Linked DNA regions of Homo sapiens: regions 2, 3, 4, 5, 6 and 7 are each reported to be linked to region 1. Evidence: microRNA targets listed by miRTarBase, many of them from high-throughput screens and not tested one by one. Region 1 holds a microRNA gene; each other region holds the end of a gene's coding sequence. Distances are from middle to middle.

Region 1 (4,068 bases):
ACCCCTGCGTCTCACCCACCGCACCCGCCGTGCGGGACCCCTGCGTCTCACCCGCCGCACCCGCCGTGCGGGACCCCTGCGTCTCACCCACCGCACCCGCCGTGCGGGATCCCTGCGTCTCACCCACCGCACCCGCCGTACCTGCCGCATCCGCCATGCGGAACCCCTGCGTCTCACCCACCGCACCTGCCGTGCAGGATCCCTGAGTCTCACCCGCCGCACCCGCCGTGCGGGATCCCTGAGTCTCACCCGCCGCACCCGCCGTGCGGGATCCCTGAGTCTCACCCGCCGCACCCGCCGTACCTGCCGCATCCGCCATGCGGGACCCCTGCGTCTCACCCACCGCACCCGCCGTGCGGGATCCCTGAGTCTCACCCGCCGCACCCGCCGTGCGGGATCCCTGAGTCTCACCCGCCGCACCCGCCGCACCTGCCGCATCCGCCATGCGGGACCCCTGCGTCTCACCCACCGCACCCGCCGTGCGGGATCCCTGTGTCTCACCCGCCGCACCCGGCTCATGGGAGTTGGGAGCAGCTGTGCCTGTTAAGCACCAGTATTTAAAACAGCACACCAGATCAGGTGCGGTGGCTCACACCTGTCATCCCAACACTTTGGGAGGCCGAGGCGGGTGGATCACCTGAGGTCAGAAGTTCGAGACCAGCCTGGCCATCATGGTGAAACCCCATTGCTACTAAAAATACAAAGAAAAAAAAAAAAATTAGCCAGGTATGGTGACGTGTACCTGTAGTCCCAGCTACTCAGGAGGCTGAGGCAGGAGAATTGCCTGAACCCAGGAGGTGGAGGTTCCAGCCTTGGGGACAGAGCGAGACTCTGTCTCAAAACTTTTTTTAAAAAAATAAACAGCATGCCAGACTGAATGGCAGCGACCCAGACGCCCCTCTCCAGCCAGGTGGCACTTGTCCCTGCGGCCAGGGCTACGGAGGGGTGGGCAGCCCCAGCCCTGCCAGAGACATGGCTGGGAGCATGGGGGGTGCTGGGAGCTCCAGGTTCCCGGACTTCAGAGCTAACAACCCCTGCTCAGGAGCTGGGGAGCTGCTTCTGGCACCACGGAGGGGCTGGGGGTGCGGCTGGGGCCATGGGCTCACTTTGCCTGTTTCCTCTGGGCCCCAGTGGCCGCCCCACCTGGCCCCCTGGCAGGGCTGGTTCTCCCAGGCAGCATTTTGTTACTATTTTACTAAGCGGTTTTATGACTTGGAAATAACGTTATTCATACGACTATTAGCACCAATAATAACCCCTACAACCTTGAACCCGCAAAGCCTCGTCCAAACAAGACAAACTCCAGCCATCGTCCCCGAAGACACAGCCACATGGAAACTAAGCCCAGTGTACAAAACTGGGCAGAAAACCATCCAGCGTCACGCAGGCCTGCAGCCCTCGGCCTAGGAAAGGTCCTGCAGGGCAAGAGGAAGAACAACCCCACAGGACAACTGAGTTCCACGGGAACTGACACAGAAACACAGAAGGTTGTCGGTGAGGCACGAAGCCGTGCCTGGCCTCACTCACAGCCCGACACAAACCAGGAGCAGGTGCTCGGGGCCTCTGCCATACCCAGGGCTGGGGGGCTGGGGGGCTGGGGGACTGAGGGACTGGGGGACTGGGGGGCTGCGGGGCTGGAGAGACCGCACCTCCCAGGCTGCTGCAGGGGCACAGGTGGCTTCCTGGGGGACAGCGTGACAGTCTCTATCCAGCTTTATGTCTTCCCAGCACCCACCTCCAGGAGTCCAGGCCCCTGAGGACCTGCAAAACCATGCGCTGGGGTCACGGGAGCCGGAAGAAACCAGGACTTTGCGGGTTCTGACTTCAAGACCAGTGTTGTCGGCGTGATCCAAGTGGGGTCAGAACCCACAAAGTCCCGGGACCGCCAGCAGGACCGGAGGGGAAGGCACAGCCGTGGATCCGGGTGGGCTGGTAGCGAGCAGGCATGGTTCCATCCAGCACAAGGGGCCCACCAGATCCCCAGGATCCAGAGCTCCATGCTTGGGGGCCGGGGGCAAGCGCTCCAATGCCAGGCCTCCGCCCATCAACCCCGTCCTCTCCAGGCGTGAAGGACGGGACGAGTCTCTGTCCAGGCCCTGCCTATAGCTGACCGAGGGCCTGTCTGTCCCACGTGACAGCTGCAGCCTGGCCTCACTGACCAGTGCCCCTCTCCCCGGGTCCCGACTGCTGATGTGTGGTTTCCAGCCGTGGGAAGGTGAGCCCATCTGGGGAGAGCACCCAAAACGGGAGGTGCTCAGAGGTGCACCCACCATGGCAACACCACTGAGGTGTGAGGTCCTGGACGGGGTCCCGGGCCGAGGAGGACACGGGACCATGGAGGACACGGAGATGCTGATGCCGGCTCTAGGGCAACACCCACACCCGTGTTACACGAGGTGTCCACAAGCAACACACGGGGCTCTGTGCTTTCTGTGATGTCCTGGCGATTCCAAAACCAAGCCTCCTTGACCACCCCGCAAGGCCTGGCAGCCCCCGCCACAATCGCCACCACCTTCTCCTCCCCACCTCCACCTCCACCTCCTGATCTCCCCCTCCACCCCCACCTCACGAGGCCACAGCCCTCCCGATCTCCACTTCCCCCTCCACCCCCACCTCACGAGGCCACAGCCCTCCCGATCTCCACTTCCCCCTCCACCCCCACCTCACGAGGCCCACAGCCCTCCCGGGCCGCCCCCCACCTCCTCCCCACCTCCCCCCGGCCTCCTCCCCTCAAGCCCTCGGGACTCACCATCTCCACCACCTCCACCTCGGCGCTGATGCGCAAGTGGTACAAGAACATCTGCAGGTCCTTCTTCATCTGGATGCTGTTGTCGTCCACCTGGGCCACGGTGAAGATACGCATCCGGCACTTCCTCCACACCTGCAGACAGGGAGGGCATGGCTGTGGGGCCTCAGAGGAGCCCGTCCCGGCCCGCAGCACGTGGGGTGGCCGTGCTCCGGCTGGCGTGTCCCCGTCGCACGCCCCACCTTGTGCTGGCGCAGCAGGAAGGGCAGCAGCATGAGCATGCCGCCGTCGTGCACGATCCACCACACGTCGATGTGGCCCCCGCCGAAGCGCTCCTGGTTTTGCGGAAACGAGTCGACGTTCTTGGCCACCAGCAGAGCCTGGTGCGCGGCGGTGGTGTCGCGGACGGTGTCTGCGGAGAGAGGCGGCCGTCCGCAGGTCATCTGAGGCCAGGGTGCGGAAGGGGCCTCCCCGGGGACTCACAGCCAGTGCAGGGGCGGGCACGGCGAGGCGAGGGGGGTCCCCACAAAGCCCCCACCCTCACTCCGTCAGCTCCTCCAAGGACCAGCCAGAGACTCACAGCAGAGTTCAGCTGCTGGTCATGTGTCCAGGGAATCCCCCAGCCCCTGCGGGGCTCTGGGAGAAGGGGAGGGAGTGCCTGGACACTTTCAGATGGCCGCTCCCAGGGCCAGGGCCTTCGACAGCCTCAGAGCACACACCCTCGGGTCGGTGGCCTCAAGGCCCATCGGGACCTGACAGCGCACAGGCCTGGGGACGTTGAGGGGACAGCGAGGAGACAGAGGGGACGGCGAGGAGACAGTGAAGGGATAGCGAGGAGACGGTGAAGGGACAGTGAGGGGACGGTGAGGGGACAGCGAGGAGACGGTGAAGGGACAGCGAGGGGACGGCGAGGAGACGGTGAAGGGACAGCAAGGGGACGGTGAGGGGACAGCGAGGAGACGGCGAGGGGACAGTGAGGGAACGGCGAGGGGACGGCGAAGCGACGGCGAGGAGACGGCGAGGGGACAGCGAGGGGACGGCGAGGAGATGGTGAGGGGACCGCGAGGGGACGGCGAGGAGATGGTGAGGGGACAGTGAGGGGACGGCGAAGAGATGGTGAGGGGACGGTTAGGGGACAGCGAGGGGATGGCAAAGGGATGCAGAGGAGACTGAGGGGACACGGGACAGTGAGGGGACAGCGAGGGGAGGCAGAGGGGGACAGTGAGGGGACAGCAAGGGGACACTGAGGAGACACACAGGGGACAGTGAGGGGACGGCGAGGGGATGCAGAGGGGACACCAAGGGGACAGTGGGGACGAAAA
Region 2 (4,068 bases), not on the chromosome of region 1:
AGCTGGGACTACAGGAGCATGCCACCATGCCTGGCTAATTTTTTGTATTTTTAGTAGAGATGAATTTTCACCATGTTAGCCAGGATGGTCTCGATCTCCTGACCTCATGATCAACCCACCTCGGCCTCCCAAAGTGCTGGGATTACAGATATGAGCCACCACACTTGGCCGTAATCAGTTTTAAGTCTAGGTCATAGAATACATATAGGAGAGGAGGGCAGCAGTTTCTTTTATTCTCCTGAGCCCTCTCTCACCCTGTTCCCTTTGCCCAGCCATATGCATTATTCATCCTTTTTTTTTTTTTTTTTTGCATGGGAACCCAATTCATACTCCAGGACAACTCAAATACCTCTACTATGGCACTTATTACCATGAAATAGAATTGATGTTTGTGTGTGCCTATATCCCCTACTAGACAGTGAACTCCATGAGGGCAGGAACTGTGTTTCAACTATCCAGTCACCCTTGTTTCTCCAGTACCTAGCACAGTGCCTAGCACATGGCAGTCACCTGGCAATGTTTGTGGAATAATAAATGGATGAATGAATCATTTGTAGTGATAATTTGCAGCTCATAAATAATAACCATGCTGTGTTTGCTTTCAGGAGACTACCTAAGAAAAAAAGGAAGTTAAGTCATCAGAGGCCCATGAAAGACAATTTTATTATTTTAGAAGAAAATTGAAGAGCCTAAAGAAAAAATATTTTATGGTTGAAAAAACACTAGACAGAAGGCACTAAAAAAGAAGAATGAATTAAGGGAGCAATTTTTATTACTTCCAGAGATCCTCTTCTTTCACTGGAATTACTTGATCAACTGTTTTTTAATAAGTGTTGGTCATCGGCATGGAATGAGAGAGCACTGATCATTTCACAGAGCATATCTATTGGGAGGCTCCTTTCTGTGAGGCTCTTGTACTCCTACACACCTTGCTAAGTATGCCAAGAATGCAAGGCTCTCACCACTCTTTATCCAAGACATTTCTCAGGGTTAGGTTGCAGCAAGCAACCTTGAAAAATGAAGGGATGTCTCCCATCAGGACAGAGAGCAAGCTTGCTTACTGTTTGCTATAAAAGCAGTGGAGTCCCTGAGCTCAGTGTTACCCCTCCTGTAATACAACTCCCTGCATGTGTGACATCTGTCTGGCTCACATCACCCCGGTGAGACTTGGGAGAAGGGATTGCAAAGGCCATTCAACAATGGACCACTAGTCAAGGTATTCAATGGACATTTCACACTCCCATTTGCAGGTATCTGGTATCATTTTGAACATTGGAAAGGCCTTCTCAAAAATCAACTCAAAAAGATTTCTGACTCTAACCCTAACTCTCACTGCACACCTTAGTAAGGCAGTATGGTCACTAAATGCACCCTTCCCCAGAAAGAGTTCATCTCCTCTTGGTCTCCTAGGTGATAATCTGGACCATAAGGGTGGAGAGCTATAGAACCTATTTTGAAAATTCAAGATTCTACACTGACTATTGCTAAACATGATGCATCTTTTTTTCCCTGACAACATCCTCAGGCCAGCCTGGTTGGTATACCCTTCAGATGTCCCTGGGGAGAGACCACCTTCGACTACTTAAAAAAAGACAGCCTAGGGAATTCAAATTTAATTCTGGTTCAGCTAGATTGGACTAACATGGTCCTATATCATGACGATAATGACTACTTAGTTAAGTACACTGTTCTCTAGATCCCTCTACAGGGTTCTACACAGGCCAAGATAGGATATAATGGTTCTCTTTAATTTTGCAAAAATGCCCCTGTCCCTCTTACATCTGACCCTTCCAGACAAGATGTCTGGAAGCAAGTAGGGCACGATTGGAGAAAAAGTATAGACATGGCTACTGGGATGGGACACACCAACTGCATGGCCACGGAGACCCTAGCACCTGGAGAGGGAACACATTCGATCTCAGGAGATTGGGAAACGGGAGCCCTTTCATGTTCTTTTTGTCCCCCAGATTCAGCATCTCCTTGTGGCAAACCCTAACTTACTAGCCTTTGTAAGTCAAGTAAAATCAAATCTTAGGTCCTTTATAGTTGTAATCAGGCAGTGAGGTACAGAATTCAAAATTCCAAAGACATGCCATCTAGGGCAGGATGTCTTTTGCTGGTATTTACAAAATTATCTCATTTTCAGCTCTGTATAATAGCCTTACACAGAACTTACTTCCAACATCATTCCTTTTCTGAGCTTGGATGGCCAAGTACCACAGATTTGTTTTTTTGTTTTTGTTTTAGTTTTTGATTGGTAGCCTTGCCACTAGTCCGTTCATCCATTATTTAGTCAGTAGTTTGATTCTTTTGGGGGTTTTGTTGTTGTTGTTTGTTTTGAGACAGAGTTTTGCTCTTGTCACCCAGGCTGGCGTGCAATGGTGCAATCTCGGCTCACTGCAACCTCCACCTCCAGGTTTCAAGTGAATCTCCTGCCTCAGCCCCCCAAGTAGCTGGGATTACAGGCACCCACTACTACACCTAGCTAATTTTTGTATTTTTAGTAGAGACGGGGTTTTGCCATGTTGGTCAGGCTGGCCTCGAACTCCTGACCTCAGGTGATCCACCCGCCTCCGCCTCCCAAAGTGGTGGGATTACAGGCCTCAGCCACTGTGCCCGGCCTGTTTTTTGTTTTTATTTTTGTTTTGAAACAGGGTCTCACTCCATAACCCAGGCTGGAGTGCAGTGGTGTGATCACAGTTAACTACAGCCTCAATCTCCTAAGCTCAAGCGATGCTTCCACTTCAGCCTCCCGAGTAGCTAGGGTTATAGGCACATGCCACGTGCAGCTAATTTTTAAATTTTTTGTAAAGATGGGGTCTCACCATGTTGCACAGGCTGGTCTAGAACTCCTGGGCTCAAGCAATCGTTCTGCCTCGGCCTCCCAAAGTGCTGAGATTACAAGAGCGAGACACTGCATCTGGCCTTTGATTCTTTTTGAAAAGAGATAACAGTAAATTTTAAATTAACTTATTTAGCATTCTTTGTAATAAGAACGTTAAATAAGTGTATTTAGATGTATTGTTTACTGTTGTATCACCACTACCTAGCACATAGTCGGCTTTGTGCTAGGTAGTAATGATACAACAGTAAATAATACATCTACCCCAAGACAGGCTCACAATTTAGTGGGGAAGGCAAGTTGTAAATGAGTCACATGACCACATGATAAATGCTGGAGCAGGTGTAAAACAACTACAGAGCACAGTCCTGAAGACTAACTGTGTCTTCAGGAACCTGAAACTAGCATTTGAAGTGCATTTGGAAGAAGAGTGAGTATGGAAGAGAGTAAAGAGTATTCCAGGCTGAAGGAGCACCAAATGCCAAGGCACAGAGTGATGAAAAGGCCTGTTGTGTGGAAAGAATGGTGAGAGGTTCCATGTGGCTGGAAAGCAGTACGTGGGAGACAGTGATCAATGAAAATGGGAAGATGGATAGAGCCAAAATAGAAAAGGCTACTCTCCTTGGAGTCACTCAGAAGACATCAAGCAGTGCTGTGGGGTAGACAGTACTTTTAGAAAACTATTAAATTAGGATTACAAAAGTAATATACACTCACTTTTATAACTTGGGAAAATAAGTTAGTCATAATTTCACATTAAGTGAAAATTTCTGGGCCCGGCATGGTGGCTCATGCCCATAATCCCAGCACTTTGGGAGACTGAGGCTGGCGGATCAGCTGAGGTCAGGAGTTTGAGACCAGACTGGCCAACATGGCAAAACCCCATCTCTACTAAAAAATACAAAAATGAGCTGGGCGTCATAGCAGGTGCCTGTAATCCTAGCTACTCAGGAGGCTGAGGCACAAGAATCGCTTGAACCCAGGAGGCGGAGGTTGCAGTGAGCCAAGATCGCGCCACGGCACTCTACCCTGGGCGACAAGAGCGAAACTCCACCTCAAAAAAAAAAAAAAAAAAAAAGATGAAAGCTTCTGGTGATGGTTTTGAGATTTTCTTCAGGTCTCTTTTGATGCACATAATATATACATTTTAACCTTACCTAGCCTTAATGCATAGAGTTGACATTCCACTATGTTCATTTAGCATGATGCTATGAGACCTTGAATGT
Region 3 (4,068 bases), not on the chromosome of region 1:
GAAGGCGCCGCCGGCCGGGGAGGACCCGCGCCAGTTCGACAAGGCGGTGGCGGTGGTGGCGCACCAGCAGCTCTCCGAGGGCGAGCACTACTGGGAGGTGGATGTTGGCGACAAGCCGCGCTGGGCGCTGGGCGTGATCGCGGCCGAGGCCCCCCGCCGCGGGCGCCTGCACGCGGTGCCCTCGCAGGGCCTGTGGCTGCTGGGGCTGCGCGAGGGCAAGATCCTGGAGGCACACGTGGAGGCCAAGGAGCCGCGCGCTCTGCGCAGCCCCGAGAGGCGGCCCACGCGCATTGGCCTTTACCTGAGCTTCGGCGACGGCGTCCTCTCCTTCTACGATGCCAGCGACGCCGACGCGCTCGTGCCGCTTTTTGCCTTCCACGAGCGCCTGCCCAGGCCCGTGTACCCCTTCTTCGACGTGTGCTGGCACGACAAGGGCAAGAATGCCCAGCCGCTGCTGCTCGTGGGTCCCGAAGGCGCCGAGGCCTGAGCCGCCGGACGGGTAGTGGAGGGGCGCGGGGGCCTGGGTTGAAGCTTAGGTCTCCTTGGTCGGGTCTGACGGGAGAAGGGTGGGGAGCGGGTTGCCAGGGCCCAGGGGGCTGGGAACTGGGGGATCTCCCAGAATACTGACAAGCGTGGGGTAGGACTGGCTTGGTGGCTCATGCCTGTAATCCCAGCACTTTGGGAGACGGAGGCGGGTGGATCACCTGAGGTCAGGAGTTCAAGACCAGCCTGGCCAACATGGTGAAACTCCTCTCTACTGAAAATACAAAAATGAGCTGGGCGCGGTGGCATACGCCTGTAATCCCAGCTAGTTGGGAGGCTGAGGCAGGATAATTGCTTGAACCCAGGAGGTGGAGGTTGCAGTGAGCAGACATTGCGGCACTGCACTCTAGCCTGGGTGACAAGAGTGAGACTCTGTCTCAAAAAAAAAAAAAAGTGTGGGGGTTGGCATGGCCTGGGGACTGCTGGTGAGGGGTTGGAGTGACGCTGGGGACAAGACCCAGTGGGGTAGGGAGATCTGGAGTCAGGTCAGTGGGGAAATCAGAATTTGGGAACCAGGAGGCCTGAGAATTCCAGGAAGAAACTAAGGTTGAGCGAGGGAGGGACAGGGCCAGGTTGGGGGATTGATGGGAGGAGCTTGAGAACCTGTAGATAAGGGGCTCCTTTTGCCTCACACTCCCCTCCTCCTTAGGCCTTGGGTCCCCCGCTCCAGATTCACCTTACCCAAAAGCCTTCTCCTTAGTTCTCCACCTTAGGCATGCATTAAAATCACCTTTTTAAAGCCCTTAGCCATGACTTGTTAAAGCATAGGGTGCTAAGTTTCTGATTTAGTAGGTTGGACAGGTCAAAAATGCTCATTTCTTTTTTTTATTTCTTTTTTTTTTTTTTTTTTTTTTTTTTGAGACAGAGTCTTGCTCTGTCACTCAAGGCTAGAGTGCAGTGGTGCCATCTCGGCTCACTGCAACCTCTGCCTCCAGGGTTCAAGCAATTCTCATGCCTCAGCCTCCCAAGTAGCTGGGACTACAGACGCCCGCCACCACACCTGGCTATTTATTTTTATTTTTAGTAGGGGTTTCACTATGTTGGCCAAGCTGGTCTCGAACTCCTGACCTCAAGTGATTCACCCGCCTTGGCCTCCCATAGTGCTGGGATTACAGACATGAGCCACTGCACCTGGCTGAAAATGCTCATTTTTTTTTTTTTAATTTAGTTTTTGTAGAAATGGTGTCTCGTTACATTGCCCAGGCTGATCTTGAACTCTTGGCCTCAGGTGATCCTCCTGCCTTGGCCTTCCAAGTGCTGGGATTACAGGTGTGAGCCACCACGCCCTGCCAAAAATGTGCATTTCTAGCAGGTTCCCAGGTGACGCTGCTGGCCACAGGGGCTGACGCTGCGGGAAGCCCTGACCTAGTGCACAACCCATTGGGCTCTTCACTGTCAGTGTAGAGGCATAGGTCCAAAATATGTTTCCCCAGTCAAAAACATGTAAGGTTTGCACCAGGAGTGGAAGGAAACAAACAAACATAAACCAAAGCAAAGACACTTAAGGGCTGGGTACTCATGCCTGTAAACCCAACACTTTGGGAGTTTGAGGCAGGAGGCTCATTTGAGGCCAGGAGTTTGAGACCAGCCTGGGGAACATAGTGAGACCCTGTTGCAACAAAAACCAGAAAAACAACAAAAAGAAGACATTGGAAAATGGCTGGAGCTGATTCTAGGTGAATAAACAACCCTCGACTTAACTTGCTTTGCCTCTGGGATATGTTTATCGAGCGTCTTGAACGTTGAGGAAGCCAGCCAAGAGAAAGAGCCTGATGCCAAGGTCACACTGGTCCCTGCTGCTCATGGGGAAGAGAAGGCCCCCAACTAGATGTCCCAGAACTGGCCGCTCCCCACTTACTTGCTGGTTCACACCTTCTTTGGTTTTAGCGCACAGGGCATTTCTTGGGCTCTGGAGTAACCACTGAGGCCAGAGTGAGAGTCCCTCTTCCCTGGAGGGAGAGGCCTTTGGGGATCCAGACAGGCTTCTCTCCTGAGGGAAGACGCTGGCCTGGGGTCACTCATTTTCACGGGGAGGGTGTGCTGGCGGGATGGGTGGAAGGGCCTGGGGCCCCGGCAGCCCATTGCGGAGGTTTTCTCGGGAGATGGTGGGTATGGGACTAAGGGTGAAAGGGAAGTTGTGAGTTGGGTAAGAAAGGCCTGAGGATCTGGCAGGGGAAGGCGGCACACCTGGGTGTGTCTCCCAGAGGAAGGCCTGTGGAGCCCTGGCTTCAGGAGACAGAAGAGAGGATTAACGGTAGAAGCTCTTTCATGTTAGAAAATAAAACAATATAGCTAAGGGATTATTTGGTTGTAAAATCCAACACCATTAATAAAACTGTTATATTCTGACTCCTTCCTCATTAAATCCACATGAAAAGACATGTGACCTACTGCAAGGCCTCCTAATTGCCCTCCAGCCTTTAATCCTGACTTGGTAATGTTTCCAAAAATGCAAATGTGGTCACGGGACTCAGTTGCTCAAAACTTTCAACAACTCCCTCTTGCCTACAGGATAAAGCCCCCAGTCTTTGGCTTAGCATTTGAGCTGTTCTGCCATTTTTTTTGTTGGTTGGTTTGTTTGTTTTGTTTGAGACAGAGTCTCGCTCTGTCGCCCAGGCTGGAGTGCAGTGGTGTGATCACCGTAACCTCCGCCTCCTAGGTTCAAGGGATTCTCCTGCCTCAGCCTCCCGAGTAGCTGGGATTACAGGTGCCCGCCAGGCTGGTCTCGAACTCCTGACCTCAGGTGATCCACCCATTTTGGCCTCCCAAAGTGCTGGGATTACAGGCTGGCCTTCCAGCTTCATCTGTTTTTAGTTAAAAAACAATTTTTTTTTTTGAGACAAGGTCTTGCTCTGTCGCACAGGCTGGAGTGCAATGGTGTGATTGTGGCTCACTGCAGCCTTGACCTCCTGGGCTCACATGATCCTCCCACTCCAGCCTCCTGAGTAGATAGGATGGCAGGCACCCATCACCATGCCTGACTATTTTTTATTTTTTGTATTTTGGTAGAGATGAGGTCTCACTATGTTGCTCATGCTGGTCTCGAGCTCCTGGCCTCAAGCGATCCTCCCATCTTGGCTTCCCAAAGTGTTGGGATTACAGGTGTGAGCCACTGAGCCCAGCCCAGCTTCATCTTTTATTTTATTATTATTTTTTGAGATGGAGTCTCACCGTGTCACCCAGGTTAGAGTGCAGTGGTGTGATCTTGGCTCACTGCAACCTCTGCCTCCCAGGTTCAAGTGATCCTCCTGCCTCAGCCTCCCGAGTAGCTGGGACTATAGGCAGGTGACACTACGCCTAGCTGATTTTTGTATTTCTAGTGGGGACAGGGGCTTCACTATGTTGGCCAGCCTGGTCTCGAACTCCTGACCTCAGGGGATCCCCCAACTCGGCCTCCCAAAGTACTAGGATTACAGGCTTGAACCGCCGCGCCCAGCCCCAGCTTCATCTTAAAAAGAAAAGTTCTCTGTTTTAATATCTAACAGGGCAAATATTGAAAGATAAAACCACATAACAAAAGCTCTT
Region 4 (4,068 bases), not on the chromosome of region 1:
GGGATGCCTTGACTGTGGATGTGATACTCATCTGTGGTATTAAAACATTTTATAAAAAGCATGTGCCATTTTTATAATTTAAAAAAACCCCTAAATATTATTAATAAAATTGACATGTAATAAAATAAAGATGCTGTGTCATTTTTTAAAGCCATGAATATTATAAGGGGTCTAGTAAATAAATAAATTTCAGAAATTCGTTAGGCAAAGGGACTCTCACTAGGTCCAGATGAAAATGAAGTGATGTTGAGTAGCTCCCAGCACAGGCAGATCTGCCAAAGCAGCCATTCTGAAAGGATAAGGAGCAACAGGTATGTACGGCTCTCCATCAGTCATTACTAATTTCCATCACTGTGCATTTGCCAGCTAAATTATGTTTCAAAACTTGCACTGGTTTTTGGTTATCACATCTACAGAGGAAACATAAGCTCTGAAAGCAAAATTCCTAGTCATGGTATTTATTCCATTCTTGGCTTACTAATCTTCTCTCTTATTCTTTATGAAGTCCTTGAATACGATAAAGCACAGTTTAACTGTGTTCTATTTTGTTAAATGCACAATATTAAAATATAAGCTTGCAAAAATGACTACCTTTCAGGTTACAGAATGTTGTCTTTTAATAACTCTTCATTTTCCATTCCTCTATCAACCACATCTAAAAATGGAATCTCAAAGCAGTCAGTGCCATGACACAAAGAAACAAACACAGAGGAGTCAGCCAAGCTAGCTGCCTCTTCAGTGCTGTCTCAGTAGGCTTTGTAGAAATGATATTTCTATAGGTACATATTTTTATGTCTGTTAAAGTTACATGGCACTTCAGACCAGGACTAGATCACTTGCTTTCCTGATGTCCTAATAGTAGGGATACAATATACTTAAGCTGAGATGGAAACTCCTAGACCATAAGGCCTTAGCTCTTTCCAAAGCCCAGGACCAATTTTTAAAACATGCTACAGGAGGTGGTTTAATGTTGAAGCCATTAAACATGTGGTTATTCTGCTCACTTTATTTTGGAAATCCCAAGTCCTAGTGGTACTTGCTTTTTTCAAAGCGATATATCAAATATTGGTCTCCATGAATAACACAGGACTCTAATGCCTTTTTTTTTTTTGGTTTGAAAAAATTTCCAAATGCATCAGGAATCTTACAGTACCAACTCATCATTTTTCATAACACAGATTTATGTCTTCAATTGGAGCTATTTAGAAATTGGCCCATAGCCACCTGTACCCTAAATTTTCTCTGGGCTACTTGGAAGTATTTAGAGAAATGTGAGATGGTAGTTGATGAAAACAGAGTTCTTCATCCCAACAGTAACAGCTAGATAACTGACTGCTTGGCCAAACATTTGACTCAATCCAGGGAATGGAAGATGCCATTCAAAGCCAGATTCCAGTTTGTGTTAAGGATTATATTTCTGTCATCACATTTCCTTGACAGTCCCGCCAACTAAAAATCCCCCAGCAAAAGCCCAGTGATTAAATTCTCCTGGAGCATATTTTTCCAGCTTCTGGAAACAATCTGCTGCAGTGTCTCCTGTAATATCCAAAGGATAGTTCCATTTCTGAGGCTGATATATGGAAGTAGATTACTCACAACCCAATCCATCCTCCCACCAACAATTTGATTTTGAAATGACTATGGAAAGACTGTGGTAATAAAATCCCCATCCACTGAAAGGCTGTTCCTGTTTAATATAGCACGTCATAGCCGCACTTTCAAAATGATGATATGTTACCGAAATGTGACTCAGATAAGCAAAATGTCACCATTAGACTTTTAAATTAAATGTAGAGACACTATCATTCATGGTCATATGTAGAAACATTAGGGAAGCACTATGCTATGTCCAAGGACAAAATGAAAATAAGCTCAGGAGACGTCAGATTTCGCCAAAAGTAAAATCCTTGGACACCTACTTTTATTTTTGACTTACCCCCAAGTCAAGTAGATATTTGGACAGAAAGACAGACATTTTCTTCTGATATTTTAGGGATCACAGAGTCCCTAAGAGAGGTACCTGTAAGTACCATTCGATCCGTGGCAGGTTTAGATGTTACAATTCTAACTATCTGACAGACATTTCTGGCTAGATTCCAATGGTGGTTTGCACTAAGGACTTTCTGAAAAGGGAAAAATAAAGTAGATAAAATAATATATTAGACTACCCCATACATAGAAAATGGGGTTATTAAGTACGACCTTTGGACCTGACAAATAATAGTTGAAGCATCCTTCTGAATGATCCAGGCATCCCATAAATCTGGCAGTGGAACTCATACAACAAGCCTTTGTTCTTGGGTCAAGGATTACTTGGAGTAATGAAAACCAAAAACCTAAAAGAAAGACCTAAAATGGGGCTCCTCTCACCACTGTATCCAACAGTCTATAGTTATTAGCCTCTGTGCAACATTCCAATGACTGTTTCCTATTTCAGTGACATATGTTGACATATGTTGCTACTTTTGCTTTTGCTGTTTTTTTTTTCCAAGTCAATTAGGGTGCTTTCTATTATCATTCAACAAAGTTTAGAAGTAAACATTGTTAGAGTGCTCCATTTCCTGTAACCACAGTTCCCACACAGGATTATTTGCTCTGCAATTTAAACAGCACTTAAAATTGAGTGGTTCTGCAAACTAGCTGTGGGCCTCTGTTTAATCCTTTGCTCATCTTCTATTGCAGCAAAAGGCAAAGATGGCTACACATAGGCAGTACGGAGCTGTACAGACAGCCCAAGCTGAACCAGTCCTGCATGGCTATTGGCTACAGCCCAGCAGCCTGGGCTGACCCCTGGGTTACCTCTCTGAGGTACCTCCAAGCACAGACATCTCCCATGCCACCTCACCATTCCTCAGAGATATAGCACACAAGTTGACATTATCCATGTGGCACTTCCCAGCTCCTATATAATGAAACGGAGGGTTGGCGGGTGAGGGGGACATGCAGAGAGAGTCACTAAATAGTCTTGATATATTTAGTCTTAGAAATGGAAGTGGTTTTACAGTTATATTTCTGCAGGACATTCAGAAGGTTTTAGAAGGCCTTCAGACAATCTTGTGGTCTTCCAAGACTGAATGTAAAGAGAAGAGATAATATTTTTCTTTAAGTTGATGGGTAGTTACAGTAGAATTGTATGGTACAGGGAAAAAAACCAATGCATAGGGGGAGGATGGAGCAGTGCCATTTATACGAACATCCTTTGAATCTTTAAAATAAATTATACAGGTGAACACAGAAGTTCATGCTACTTGCTGGAAGCAATAAGGATCAAATTTTGTGGAACTCGTACTGTATTCCACAAATCTCCAGGTATCCTGCCTCCTTCTCAATGGGCTATCATGTTCTGTTGTACATCTTGGTAGCCCTTAAAAGCTAGTGGCATGGTCTCAGGTAGATTCTTGCAGGAGAGAGACAGATATATGAATTCCATCAGCTTCTTCCAGGGGAGCTGCCCAATTGCAGGGAGGGCAGATGTGATACGCTTGCTCATGTCCTCTTTGCCCGAATACCAGGGTCAAACAGCAGTTTCCAGGTCCTCATGGCCAATGACCTTATAGTTCTGACGGCTTTCTAGGTAAGCAGCCAAGTCTGGGTCCCCAGCCTGCTGTGCTCTTTCTTGAGGTGTCTTACCCTATACGAAAATAGTGAGAAAAAAAAAAAGAGAGAGAGAGATAGACACAAGCGCTAGTCGTGAAATACAAAAACAAAAAACAAAACAAAACAAAAATCACAGAAACAGAACTACGCAAGGATACCTGCTAGTAAGGATCCTTTCACATTTGGTGTTTTAGAGTTTACAAGACACTTTCAAATCTATTGTCTTATATGAGCATTAAATTGAACATGTGCGATTGGTAAATGAAAGGGAAAGAGTTTATCACTTTTGACGGGTGGGGTTTATACTAGGGAAACAGAAGTTCACAGAGGTTAACAGTATACAGAAGGAAACAGTGGGGTAAAGCGAGTTTTGAAACCCAGAGCCTTTCTGGAAGATGGGGAGGTAGAAATTACTGAATTTAAAAAATAGGGAGGCAGGCATTTAGATTTCTAGTTTAGGACTCTTTCTAT
Region 5 (4,068 bases), 56 Mb from region 1:
TATAACAAACTGTGATAAATTCTTTTTGTTTTTTTTTCCTTTGCCCCATTATTTTCTTATGAACAAACCAAAAATTCATGGTGAGCAGTTGCAGTGTTGGCTGATATATCTTTTATGTACAGGGAATTTGAAAAGGACAGTGGATTCATTTAGAAGTGTAACTGGTGCTGTGATTATAGCAATACATTTGTTAGTTGTACTTCATCTTTTTCATGCTAGCTTTTTAAATGTTTAGTTTTCCTCTTGTCATGGTCAGCTGCTGAATTTACTTGAAGGATGTAGAATACTGTTTAAAAAATACTAAAATTTGTACAATTAGATCAAAGAATTGTGCAATCATTTCCTTTTTAATTTTTAAAATGTTGAGGCTCATAAATATTTGAGAACATCAGATCTAATAGAGCATAGTGATACTATTTAATTTAACCAAAGTCTCTAGTGAATATTTCAACTTTGAATGTAAACTAACAAATAAACCTGACCACCAAGGAGATTGTTTGCCCAGAGTTTCAAAGCACATTGTCTACAAATGGAAATTGAAATAATTTATAAAATATTGACGTTACTATGTTTTTTAAAAAGTTCCTAATTTTTTCACTAAATGGAGGAAACTATTAGTTTTATTGTTAAATATGGTAGATATTAATATTCCTCTTAGATGACCAGTGATTCCAATTGTCCCAGTTTGAAATAAGTACCCTGTGAGTATGAGATAAATTAGTGACAATCAGAACAAGTTTCAGTATCAGATGTTCAAGAGGAAGTTGCTATTGCATTGATTTTAATATTTGTACATAAACACTGATTTTTTTGAGCATTATTTTGTATTTGTTGTACTTTAATACCTGGTGTACAGTTCCAGAAATAAAAATCTGGGAATCTTTTTTTCTTGGTTTGTGTGAATATTTGCCAAAAATACAGATATTTTATTTAATGAATCTTAAGCTACAGCAAATAGATAGATATTATACCACTGTTAAATTGGTTTTAGATGCAGTAAATAAGATATATGATAGATAGTGAAGTTGGTAGATTAAATATTTTCCTTAAATCCTCTATAATTTCCATCTATAATAAAAGTCCCCCTGTAATCCCAACACTTTGAGAGGCCGAGGCGGGCAGATCATGAGGTCAGGAGTTCAAGACCAGCCTGACCAACATAGTGAAACCCCGTCTCTACTAAAAATACAAAAATCAGCCGAGCGAGGTGGCGCATGCCTGTAACCCCAGCTACTCAGGAGGCTGAGGCAGGAAAATTGCTTGAACCCTGGGGGTGGTGGTTGCAGTGAGCTGAGATCCTGCCATTGCACTCCAGCCTGGACAACAGACTGAGACTCCATCTCAAAAAAAAAAAAAAAAAGAAGTCCCAAAGTAAGGATTATACTTTTAGTTTAATTCAGGAAACATTTATTATGTTTCAAACGCTGTTCTAGGTAACTGTCTTTTATGAAGACAGACAGATCTGAAATTTGGTCAAATATTATTATTATTTGACAGACTACATTTATGGTCAACTAGTCTTCCTTATCCATACGATTCATAGTTTGACCGTAGTCATATCTATCTTTCCTAAACATCTTTTTAAGCTAAAGCTCCTATCTTGCCATTATTTCACAAGTTTGTCCCCATATTTCATTTCCTCTGACCAGAGCTTTATGTAGTTCCATTTTTAAGATGCAGTGATCAGCTTGCCCATAATATCCAAAGTTTGTACAAGGCCAAGAAGGGGATAAAAGGAAAGCAAAAATCTTGACTCCTCTGCTTTGGTTACTTGACTAAAACCACATCCCTTCCTTGTCAGACACGAAAGGACCTTAGCACATAGGGCTCTGTGGTGGACACATGCACAGAAGTGCCTTCAGAGCAGGGACAAGCACACATATTCCGAATACAGCAAGAATGCAACAATGTGCCATGTGAGAGCTCAGAGTATTTTCAGGCTTTAGGAGACGGAAAAGCCTGTGGAAGCAGGATAATCTAGTACATCTGTTACTAGAAGTCATTTTGGCCATAATTTCCATCTATGGTACGCTTTTTGAGCTTGCTGGTGGTAAGTGCTAAAGAGAATGAGGAATATGTCAGGGTTGGGAGCAGTGAGGGATTGTAAATTTCAGTGGGGTGATGAGGCAACGCTCCTCACTGAGGTGACAGGAAGGGAGAGAACAAGCTATGTGGCTGTCTGGGGGAAGATGTTTACAGGCAGAGAGAACTAAGTGCAAAAGTCCTTGGTTGGGAATGTGCCTGGCAGGTTTGGGGAGTGGCCAGGAGGCAGGTGTGGGTTGGGATGGAGTGAGCAAGGGGAGAAAGGAGAGGAGCTCTTGAGGTCATGAGCAGGTTATGCATGTGAAGGACTTCAGCATTTACTCCATGATAGGGAGAGGGTTTTGAGCAGACGTATGTCAATACCTGACTTTCATTTAAAAGAATCACACTTGGTGATATGTTCTGTAAGGGGGACAGGAGTGGAAACAAGGAAGGCAATTGAGAGGCTACTGAAATTGCAATAAACTAGGTGAGTAAAGCTGGTGGTAAGGAAGTGAAGGTAATCAGAATCTGGTCATATAGGTTCCATGAATTTTTGAGGGATCCAGTAAAGAACACCCTCCTTCCTATCCAAGTTTGGAACTGAGAGAGCTGGAGTCAGGTCGATGGAGGTCAAAGTAACTATTGCTAATAAAACGGGAAGGTAGCTTCAGGGCTGCAGCCAGGTTGGCCTGCCAATATATTACACCTCTGGACTCACTCTGTCACTGGCTGGGCTGGCTACAGGCTATTCTCTGCACAAGGCAGAGAACTGCCAGGACACATTCTTTCTGCTGGCAGCCAGAGTCCACAGGGAAGGAACTAGAAGGGTATATAGGACATGGGTGCCTAGTTATTCTCCAAACATAATCAGGGAGTCAATCTCCCTCCAGTGGGTGGAGAGAGAGGCTAGGAACATTAACCAGTGGAAGCCCTCCACATGAAGACATGAGACACGGGGAATAAGTGTTCCTCCCACCAACACTATCTTGCACTTTTTTTCCACCTTTTCTTTGGTGTGAAAATGTTCAAAGAGTAAAGAAAATAGTAATAATGACCTCACATTTTCCCCTCAGCCAGCTAGAGCAATCTTTACATTATACATAGACACACCAATTTACTCATGGCAACACAATAGGTATTTTTTACTCAATTCTGTAAAAATAAAGTTTTTACAGAAGTTTGTACACATCAGCAGTACTACAAGAACTGCTGATGCCTGGCTACAATTTTATAAACCACCACAGAGCTTACAAAATAAACAAAAGAAAAATTGAAATTATAAGTTCAAAGAGTAGGTTTTAATTTAATAAGCTATTGTGTATTTAGGTGAAAACCAATTAAACTTGGAATTGCATTACAAATTTGAAATTGTAATGAAGCAAGTAGCTTTTATCATGAAATTGGAACATAAATATAATATCAACAAAAACATAAGAAATTCCTATTCCAATTAAGTCTCAAAATATTTGTTTTACAGGTAGAACTCAGAGAAGTGATTAACAAAAAACACTTAGAATTAATAGCTGAGTAGAAAACCTAATAATTTCTGATTCACAGAGTTAGCTGACAATTGTGTAGTAGTTTGAAAAAAGCTCTTCTCCTTGATTGATGTCCCTAAGTGCGACAAGAACAACACATCGAAGTGGGCTGAAAACAAAAAGATATACAAAAGGTAGAGCATTAACAAATATAAGCTCATATTTTTAATATAACCAAGATGGCTTTTATAGAGGTAACTTTACTCAGGTTCCTTCCATTTTAGTTTATGCATTTGATTTCCATGAGGAAATAGTTCTTATTCCTGATGCAGGTATTCTAAAGAGTATATCTATATCATTTAAAAAATCACAAATCAATGTTTATACAACTGACTACTTCTTCTGAAAACATTGTTTCTAAGTTTAGGCCCCCAAAACTAGTATCACAAAAAGGATTTTAAAATGACATTATAGTTTTTCTTGCATTCATTTGTATCTTATATCCTGAAAAATGAAAACATTACTTAAAATTAGTTGGAGTTTTAAAAAAATGCTTTTTTCTGGA
Region 6 (4,068 bases), not on the chromosome of region 1:
TTACTGGTGTTTTTAACAAAAGCAACCACATTTGTTTTATTAATTCTGACAGAGTTGATTGAGAAGAGAGATAAGGGGGCTAGCTGGCTGCTCTAGTAAAACCTCATAGACCCTTAGGTGACCCTGCTTTTCTCTCTCTTTTTCTCTCTCAAACCATACAATAATCAGAAGTAGCTTAGTGAATATAGAGTCAAAGTGAGAAAAGTTAATCAAATGGTTTTGATGGTCATCATCACCTAATTCTGAGGCTCCTGCTGTCCCACAAAACCTGTGCCTGCAATGGCAGCCTTCTCTCCTGTGAGCTCAGACCTAGGCCACCTTAAGTTCTTTCCTAGATTCCTTGCAGACCTCCCCACTTCTATTGGCAGTTATCTTTAAATGGATTTCAACAAAATGTGTAAATAATGCCTTTCTTTTAAGTCTCTTTTATTCATTTACTCCAGTCATCTCAATTGAACTTATCATTAATACCTGAAGAGTTATTTTCAAAGAGACAAACCTCTTTATGTGTTTTATGTGTTGCAGTTGTAATGGTCAGTGGAAATAAACAGGAGTGTTTATTATTGCAACAATAAAATGCTGCAATTAATGATTGTAAATGCTATTAATTTTAATATCCAAAACAATTATTGGGCTCTTTCAAATAGTTAAAGAGTCTGACAGTTAATGTAAATCTTAAGAAAGGAAGTATTAGCTAAGTAACTTTAGGAAGAAAATGAACCTTGGGACTTCCTGTTATGGAGATACTATGTTAAGTTTGGTTGCATGTGACAGAAAGCCCAAAATAAGAGTGGCTTAAACATGAAAGATTATTTTTCTTTCATGTAAAACTGAATATAAGCAATCCAGGATTAGTGTGACAGTTTCGGTGTGAGACCCAGGCTCCTTCCTGGCTGCTCTGTGATCTTCAGCATATGGCTTTCATTCATGGTTCAAGCTGGCTGCTCAAGCTCCCACGATCTTGTCTGAAATCCAGTCGGCAGAAAAGGGCAAGAGTGGGAATAACGGTACCCCCTGCCCATTAAGAATACTTCCTTTTGCATGCCATTGGTGAGGACATAGACACACGCCTACTTCTGGTTGCAAGGGAGGTCAAGAGTCTGTACTCTTGACAGTCATTTGTGTACCTAAAAACTGAGACTTCAGTGAATAAGGAAGAAGAGGAGAGCAGATACTGAGGGGTAACCAGCAGCCTCTGTCAGGGGTCTTAATAAATATTCTTTAAAAAATAATGAATGAATAAGTGAGTAGATACTACTAGAAATCCAGGCTCACTACAACATGAGGAAAAGGGTTGAATTTTGCAATCCTGATTCTGCTACTGACTAAGAATGTGGCTTAATCTGATCCTCAGTTGTCTAGGTAAAATTAAAGTGGTGAAGATAAAAATACCCACCAGAGTGAGAAAATGAATATAAAAGGACTACTTAGCACAGCTTGGGACATGGTAACAGCTTAACAAATGTTAGTTCTTACCTTTCTCTCCTGCAAAGCTAAGGCCCAGACCCTGGAATACAGTACTCTCTCCTGCATTTCTGTCTTTCTGTCTCCTACTGGACTACCTGGAAGACCTCTGAAGAGGCCTATGAAGAGCACAAGTACTGGGCACCAGTAGGTGAAGGTTAAGGCTGATAGCAGGGATAGTAAATTGCCTCTCCCAGTATAAAATTAAATCTGTATAATAAGTGAGACAATAATTACTATAAGAAAGACTAGCATGTTATTTCACATTCCTTATCTCACAACAATGGTAATATTATCCCCATTTGACTGGTGAGGAAACAATCTGAATAATTAAGAAATTTGCTCATATGGCCAGTAAGCAACAGAGCCTGGCTAGGTACCTGGGCAACATGACTTCAGAGCCTGTACCTGTTACCCCTGTGCTCTACTGACTCACTGTCTTGCCTATTGACTGTGAACATCTCTGGGAAAGGGCAGGACAAGGCCCTGTTTCATCTATCTGCAGGCTATAAACTTGCCCGAGGTATCTCTTCATACCTGACCGTTTTCTAGCATTGTGGCTTGAGTAATCTGTTTACAGATAAGAAGTCTTTTTCTGTATCTCTTTAGCATCTCCTCTTCCCCCAGTGTGGTCAACCTCTGCAACCACAGAAGCTACATCCAGAAATGTCCTTATACTCCTGTGTATTTGATAAAGGGGACTGGTTATTGGGGATGGGGACCACCAATCTCCATTTACCACCCCCCCACCGGCCGCCTCACTATCTGTATGCAATGATCCTTCCACTCTTCATATTACAGAATTCTCTTCCCCTCTTGGCTAGAGAGACTTAGTGAGTCAACAGAGACTTCACCCAGATACCACATTCTTCAAGCCATTCTGAAAAGACTCTAGAGCAAAAGTATCACTGCCAGCCCTGCTCTAGGGAAAAGGCAGGGAGACAGACATTGGAGGGAGGCCATATACAAAGAAGACACTCATTTCAAGTTTTCTTCAATGACTTTAATTGGAAACTTGAACCTTCTAAACCATAGTTCACACCCGGCTCTGTGGTACAGCATTTAGTTCTCAGTGGGGTTGGGGGACAAATGCATAATTGAGGTTAAAATAGGGAACTACAGTCTCTCTGGTCTCGTAGAGTTATTCAAATTATGGCTGCTGGATAAGGCTTAAAATAATTATGTTAATGACACCAAGCTATGGGTTCCTTCTTCTTCTGATGCTGAATCATCCTCCTATGAGGAGAACTCTTTCAAAAAAAAATTGGGGATCAAAATACAAGTCTGTGGCTGCACTAAACATCCACAAGTGGGAAACTTCTTGTTGCAGATACTGAGCTGGACACAAAAACACTCAGGCCTGGAGAAGGCCACCCCACCCCCAGCCCATTCACTGCACCAACCTATTACCCTTCTCCATTCAGCATTGGAGTTCTCCCAGACTCTGTTCTGAGAGGATCTAACTCTGGAAAAAACCAAAGGCCCTTGCTTGATTACTGTGGCCTTACTTCTTTGAGGACCCCAACACAGGGCTGAGTGGTAGTTTACAGAGCTGTGTATAATAACAGCCATTATAGTAATCTTGAATTTCTATCAGCTGTTCTTCCTAAGAACAACTGAAAACACCTTCACAGTAAAAATATCAGGGTTTGCCCTCTCACCAACCCCAAAAAGAGGAAAGTGGGCAAACCCCTTCCCTTTACATTAAAGGGAAGCATGAGGCCTGGTGAGGTCAAAGGACTTCTTCCTAGTTCCCCCACACATCAGGGCAGAGAGCTATGGAGGGTTCCTACCTTCTCTGCTTGGACTCTGTTTCTTAGTCAACATTGCCAAAATTCTAGAGGATAAAGGTTTGACTGTTTATCCACATTTTTCTAATTTGTACATTTTATCTCTTTCCCATGTGGGCACTTTGGGATTTAGGAATGCTTCTCATTGCTTTGAGATTTGGTGATCCCTTCCAGTCCTCTCCCTCTTCTCTCTAGTCCAGAGAAGATAGCACTTCAGTCTCGCAAGAGCCCTCATGCCCCTTTCTGGCTCGAAGTTCTATTAGGTGGAAGACACTATGTAGGCTGTGGCGATGTACTTCTTGCCATTCCCATAGGTGGACTTGTCCCAGGTATATGTCCGGACAGCTAAGGGATATCCTCCCAGGCTTAACTGGCACCTGTGGGGAAAGAGCCTGAAATCAGAGGAGCTCCCCACTTCACGCTGCCTCTCCCTGGGCTGGAAGGATCAAGCCCAACTGAAGCAGAAGGGCTCCATTCTGCTTAAACAGCCTTAAAGACAGAGCTGGCACTGCTTTCTTCAGCAGCTGCCTCCAGCTCCCCATGTGCAAGGAGCCATTTCAAAATCTTTGCCTTATTTCTTGTCTTCTTAAAGAATGCTGTTCCTCATCTTTCCCAGAGCAATATTCCAAAATCCCAGATTCTGGAGGTGAAATCCTTAGAAATTAAACATTTGCTTAGGGTTTCAGAAGTGGAAGAACTCAACGTGTCCGAATGTTAGAGAACTTGAAGCCCAGTGGTTCCTAATGGTACTTTCTGGAGCTCTAGGTTCCCCTAAGTAGCCTCAGGGGACAAATAAAGAGGCTGAGAGCTCTAG
Region 7 (4,068 bases), not on the chromosome of region 1:
AGTGATGTGGCCCCAAGCTGGCAAGAAAACAATTCTAATGGAGACAGGAAATTAAAAGACAGATCTTTCCTCTGCCACAGATTAGCTTTATAGTATCGAATAAAGCAAGGAAAGACCCTACTTTCCATATCTATAACATGGAGAGATGTTAACATGAAAATAGATTTTCTTTTCCCTATCAGTTAAGGAAGGCTTCTCTTTAACACAAATGACCACTGTCTTTTGCTTGGTCTCCACTTCTTTAAGGGAAATATCTTTGGAAATGGCAATCCATGGGAACGTTTCACAAATACTCTGTCATCGCTTATGTTTCTTGAACCACCTAGGTCTGTACTTGAGTTCATACTCTATCTGGTAGTTGAGCGCTTAGGAGTGCTTAGCTAAATAGATGCTCTGTTGTTTGAAAAGTCCACCTACCCCTATTTCTGTGGCGGGCTGGTCACTGTTGTGTGTCTATGTTTTACACTGACTGTGCCATCTCTAATGTTCTCCATTCCTGGACTTTTAGGATCACCAGCCTTTTGCAAATGCACACGATGTGCTAGCCCGCTCCCGCAGTCGAGCCAACGTGCTGAACAAGGTAGAATATGCACAGCAGCGCTGGAAGCTTCAAGTCCAAGAGCAGCGAAAGTCTGTCTTTGACCGGCATGTTGTCCTCAGCTAATTGGGAATTGAATTCAAGGTGACTAGAAAGAAACAGGCAGACAACTGGAAAGAACTGACTGGGTTTTGCTGGGTTTCATTTTAATACCTTGTTGATTTCACCAACTGTTGCTGGAAGATTCAAAACTGGAAGCAAAAACTTGCTTGATTTTTTTTTCTTGTTAACGTAATAATAGAGACATTTTTAAAAGCACACAGCTCAAAGTCAGCCAATAAGTCTTTTCCTATTTGTGACTTTTACTAATAAAAATAAATCTGCCTGTAAATTATCTTGAAGTCCTTTACCTGGAACAAGCACTCTCTTTTTCACCACATAGTTTTAACTTGACTTTCAAGATAATTTTCAGGGTTTTTGTTGTTGTTGTTTTTTGTTTGTTTGTTTTGGTGGGAGAGGGGAGGGATGCCTGGGAAGTGGTTAACAACTTTTTTCAAGTCACTTTACTAAACAAACTTTTGTAAATAGACCTTACCTTCTATTTTCGAGTTTCATTTATATTTTGCAGTGTAGCCAGCCTCATCAAAGAGCTGACTTACTCATTTGACTTTTGCACTGACTGTATTATCTGGGTATCTGCTGTGTCTGCACTTCATGGTAAACGGGATCTAAAATGCCTGGTGGCTTTTCACAAAAAGCAGATTTTCTTCATGTACTGTGATGTCTGATGCAATGCATCCTAGAACAAACTGGCCATTTGCTAGTTTACTCTAAAGACTAAACATAGTCTTGGTGTGTGTGGTCTTACTCATCTTCTAGTACCTTTAAGGACAAATCCTAAGGACTTGGACACTTGCAATAAAGAAATTTTATTTTAAACCCAAGCCTCCCTGGATTGATAATATATACACATTTGTCAGCATTTCCGGTCGTGGTGAGAGGCAGCTGTTTGAGCTCCAATGTGTGCAGCTTTGAACTAGGGCTGGGGTTGTGGGTGCCTCTTCTGAAAGGTCTAACCATTATTGGATAACTGGCTTTTTTCTTCCTATGTCCTCTTTGGAATGTAACAATAAAAATAATTTTTGAAACATCCATCAGTGTATCTATCTATGTCTCCTAGTTTTTTCCTCCTCCCTCTTTTGCTGTATAATGAGATTGAAGATATAAAGACATTTTGTACCCTGTTCTGAGACTACTGTTTTATACCAATCTAACCGTAAAATATTGGTGTAAATTATGTGTTTGCATGTATAGACAGAATATATGAATTTGGGGGTGGATCTCTGAAAAGTATACTAATATTTTGATAAATTGGGAGATTTCAAATTCCTGAAGGAGTACTTGTTCTGAGAAATTCTTGGCCCAAAAAAATCAGAATTAAATTCATAAAAGTGAGGTTTTAGGAGCCATTAATGGGATTTTGGGGTTTAGTAAAATTTTAAGCACCTACAAATATATAAATTATCAATTTTATTGTTAGTATTAAAAAATTTAATTTCAACCATGACCAAGTGGGATTTATCCCAGGTATGAAAAGCTGGTTCAACATTTGAAAATAACATTTCTAAAGAAGAAAAATTACATGAATTTTATCAATAGCAGAGAAAGCATTTGACAAAATAACCCCATTCATGATAAAAATTCTCAGGAAACTAGGAATAGAGAACTTCAACTAGATAAAGAAATGAGCTAACAAAAAAACCACAGCTAACATCATATACTTAATAATGAGAAATTAGAAGCTTTCCCATTAAGATCAGGAATAAGGCGAGGACGTCTTCTCTTACTATTCCTTTTCAACATTGCACTGGAAGTCCTAGTTGTACTGGAAGTCCTAGCCAATGCAGTGAGACAAGAAAAGGAAATAAAAGGTATAAATATTGAGAAGGAAGGAATAGAACTGTCTTTGTTTACTGATGCAATGATTGTCTATGTAGAAAACCCAGAAGAATTGACAACAACAATAATAGAACTAATAAGTGATTATAAAGGCTTGCAGGATACAAGGTTAGTATACAAAAGTCAATCAAACCAGGTGCAGTGGCATGTATCTGTAGTCCCAGCTACTCAGGAGGCTGAAGCAGGAGGATTACTTGAAGCCAGGAGTTTTGAGGCTGCAGTGAGCTATGATTGCTGCATGAATAGCTACTGCACTCCAGTCTGGGCAACACAGCAAGACCCTGTCTCTAAAAAATGTCAACCGTTTTCCTATATATCAGCCACAAACAGTGGAATTTGAAATTAAAAACAATACTATTCATAGTAGCACCCCCAAAATAAAATACTTAGGTATAAACCTAGTAAAATGTATCTAAGATCTATATGAGGACAACTGCAAAAATGATTAAATAAACCAAAGAACTAAACAAATGAAGATATATTTCATATTCATTAATAGGAAGGCTCAATATTGTTTAGATGGCGGTTCTTTCCAACTTGATCTATTGATTCAATGCAATCCCAATCAATATCCCAGAAAGTTATTTTGTGGATATTAAACTTATTCTAAAGGTTATAAAAAAGCCAAAGACAGAATAGCCAACACAATATTAAAGGAGAACAACAAAGTCAGAAAACTAACACTACCTTTGAGACTTACTATAAAACTACAGTAATCATGACAGTATGCTACTGGCAAAAAAGACAGATCAGTGGAACAGGATAGAGAACCCAGAAATAGGCCCATATAAATACAGTCAACTGATCTTTGACAAAGGAGCAAAAGCAATACAATGGAGAAAAGATAGTCTTTTCAACAAATGGTGCTGGAACAACTGGACATCCACATGCAAAGAAATCTAGTTACATACCCTGTACCCTTCACAAAAATTAATTCAAAATAGATCATAGGCCTACATGTAAAATGCAAAACTACAAAACTTTCAGAAGATAACATAGGAGAAGATCTAGATGGTGGTGATGACATAGCTGATAAAGGACTGCTATCTAAAATATACAAAAAATACTTAATAAGGGACAAAAAATTTGATTTAAAAATGGGCAAAAGTCCTGGACACCTCACCAAAGAGGAGATACAGATGGCAAATAAGCATATGAAAAGATGTTCCACATCATATGTCATCAGGGAAATGCAAACTGAAACAACAATGGGATACCAATACACACCTATTAGAATGACCAAAATCTACGACACTGATAACACCAAATGCTCTCAAGGATGTGGAGCAACAGGAACTTTCTTTTATTGCTGGTGGGAATACAAAATGGTACAGCAACCTTACAAAACTAAACATACCCTTACTATATGGTCCAGCAATTGTGCTCCATAATAATTACCCAATGAGTTGAAATCATGTCCACACAAAACCCTGCATGCAGATGTTTATAGCAGCTTTACTCATAAGTGCCAAAATTTGGAGGCAACTAAGATTTCCTTTAGTAGGTGAACGGATAAACAAATTGTGATACAACCAGACAATGGAATAATCAGCGCTAAAAAGAAATGAGAT

Evidence for each region. The annotated mature microRNA hsa-miR-4635 reads UCUUGAAGUCAGAACCCGCAA and lies in region 1 at 1,810-1,830, opposite strand. An mRNA with a match to its seed (bases 2 to 7 or 8) in the 3' UTR can be bound and repressed. Matches are read on the target gene's strand: a 7mer-m8 pairs with bases 2 to 8, a 7mer-A1 pairs with bases 2 to 7 and ends in A, and an 8mer does both.
Region 2: the mRNA of PFN4 is a reported target of hsa-miR-4635. The part of its 3' UTR that is shown has no 7-base or 8-base seed match.
Region 3: the mRNA of TRIM72 is a reported target of hsa-miR-4635. Seed matches in the 3' UTR shown: 7mer-A1 at 718-724.
Region 4: miRTarBase lists DGKI as a target of hsa-miR-4635. The part of its 3' UTR that is shown has no 7-base or 8-base seed match.
Region 5: the mRNA of SETD9 is a reported target of hsa-miR-4635. The part of its 3' UTR that is shown has no 7-base or 8-base seed match.
Region 6: the mRNA of ENDOU is a reported target of hsa-miR-4635. Seed matches in the 3' UTR shown: 7mer-A1 at 3,045-3,051.
Region 7: miRTarBase lists TMEM9B as a target of hsa-miR-4635. Seed matches in the 3' UTR shown: 7mer-A1 at 994-1,000.

Annotation. Positions count from the first base shown.
Region 1 is chr5:1,061,095-1,065,162 of GRCh38, forward strand. It overlaps MIR4635 (microRNA 4635), which reads right to left and starts at 1,880; the gene lies at 1,802-1,880. It overlaps SLC12A7 (solute carrier family 12 member 7), which reads right to left. Exons shown (of 24, transcript NM_006598.3): 19 at 2,989-3,158; 20 at 2,750-2,881.
Region 2 is chr2:24,112,149-24,116,216 of GRCh38, reverse strand. PFN4 (profilin family member 4) reads left to right here. Exons shown (of 5, transcript NM_199346.3): 5 at 606-1,408. The coding sequence ends at 634. It also overlaps a transcript of FAM228B not described here. Among named protein-coding and RNA genes, the nearest start is that of PFN4, 9.2 kb to the left of the region's middle.
Region 3 is chr16:31,224,269-31,228,336 of GRCh38, forward strand. TRIM72 (tripartite motif containing 72) reads left to right here. Exons shown (of 7, transcript NM_001008274.4): 7 at 1-4,068. The coding sequence ends at 487. Among named protein-coding and RNA genes, the nearest start is that of PYDC1, 9.2 kb to the left of the region's middle.
Region 4 is chr7:137,387,706-137,391,773 of GRCh38, forward strand. It overlaps DGKI (diacylglycerol kinase iota), which reads right to left. Exons shown (of 33, transcript NM_001321708.2): 33 at 1-3,631. The coding sequence ends at 3,515. Among named protein-coding and RNA genes, the nearest start is that of PTN, 46 kb to the left of the region's middle.
Region 5 is chr5:56,916,419-56,920,486 of GRCh38, reverse strand. It overlaps SETD9 (SET domain containing 9), which reads right to left. Exons shown (of 6, transcript NM_153706.4): 6 at 3,139-3,672. The coding sequence ends at 3,585. MIER3 (MIER family member 3) reads left to right here. Exons shown (of 13, transcript NM_001297599.2): 13 at 1-884. Among named protein-coding and RNA genes, the nearest start is that of SETD9, 8.9 kb to the right of the region's middle.
Region 6 is chr12:47,707,289-47,711,356 of GRCh38, forward strand. It overlaps ENDOU (endonuclease, poly(U) specific), which reads right to left. Exons shown (of 10, transcript NM_001172439.2): 10 at 2,446-3,631. The coding sequence ends at 3,514. All of the region lies in intron 1 of RPAP3-DT (RPAP3 divergent transcript), which reads left to right. Among named protein-coding and RNA genes, the nearest start is that of RPAP3-DT, 3.2 kb to the left of the region's middle.
Region 7 is chr11:8,944,916-8,948,983 of GRCh38, reverse strand. It overlaps TMEM9B (TMEM9 domain family member B), which reads left to right. Exons shown (of 5, transcript NM_020644.3): 5 at 509-1,782. The coding sequence ends at 664. Among named protein-coding and RNA genes, the nearest start is that of ASCL3, 3.9 kb to the right of the region's middle.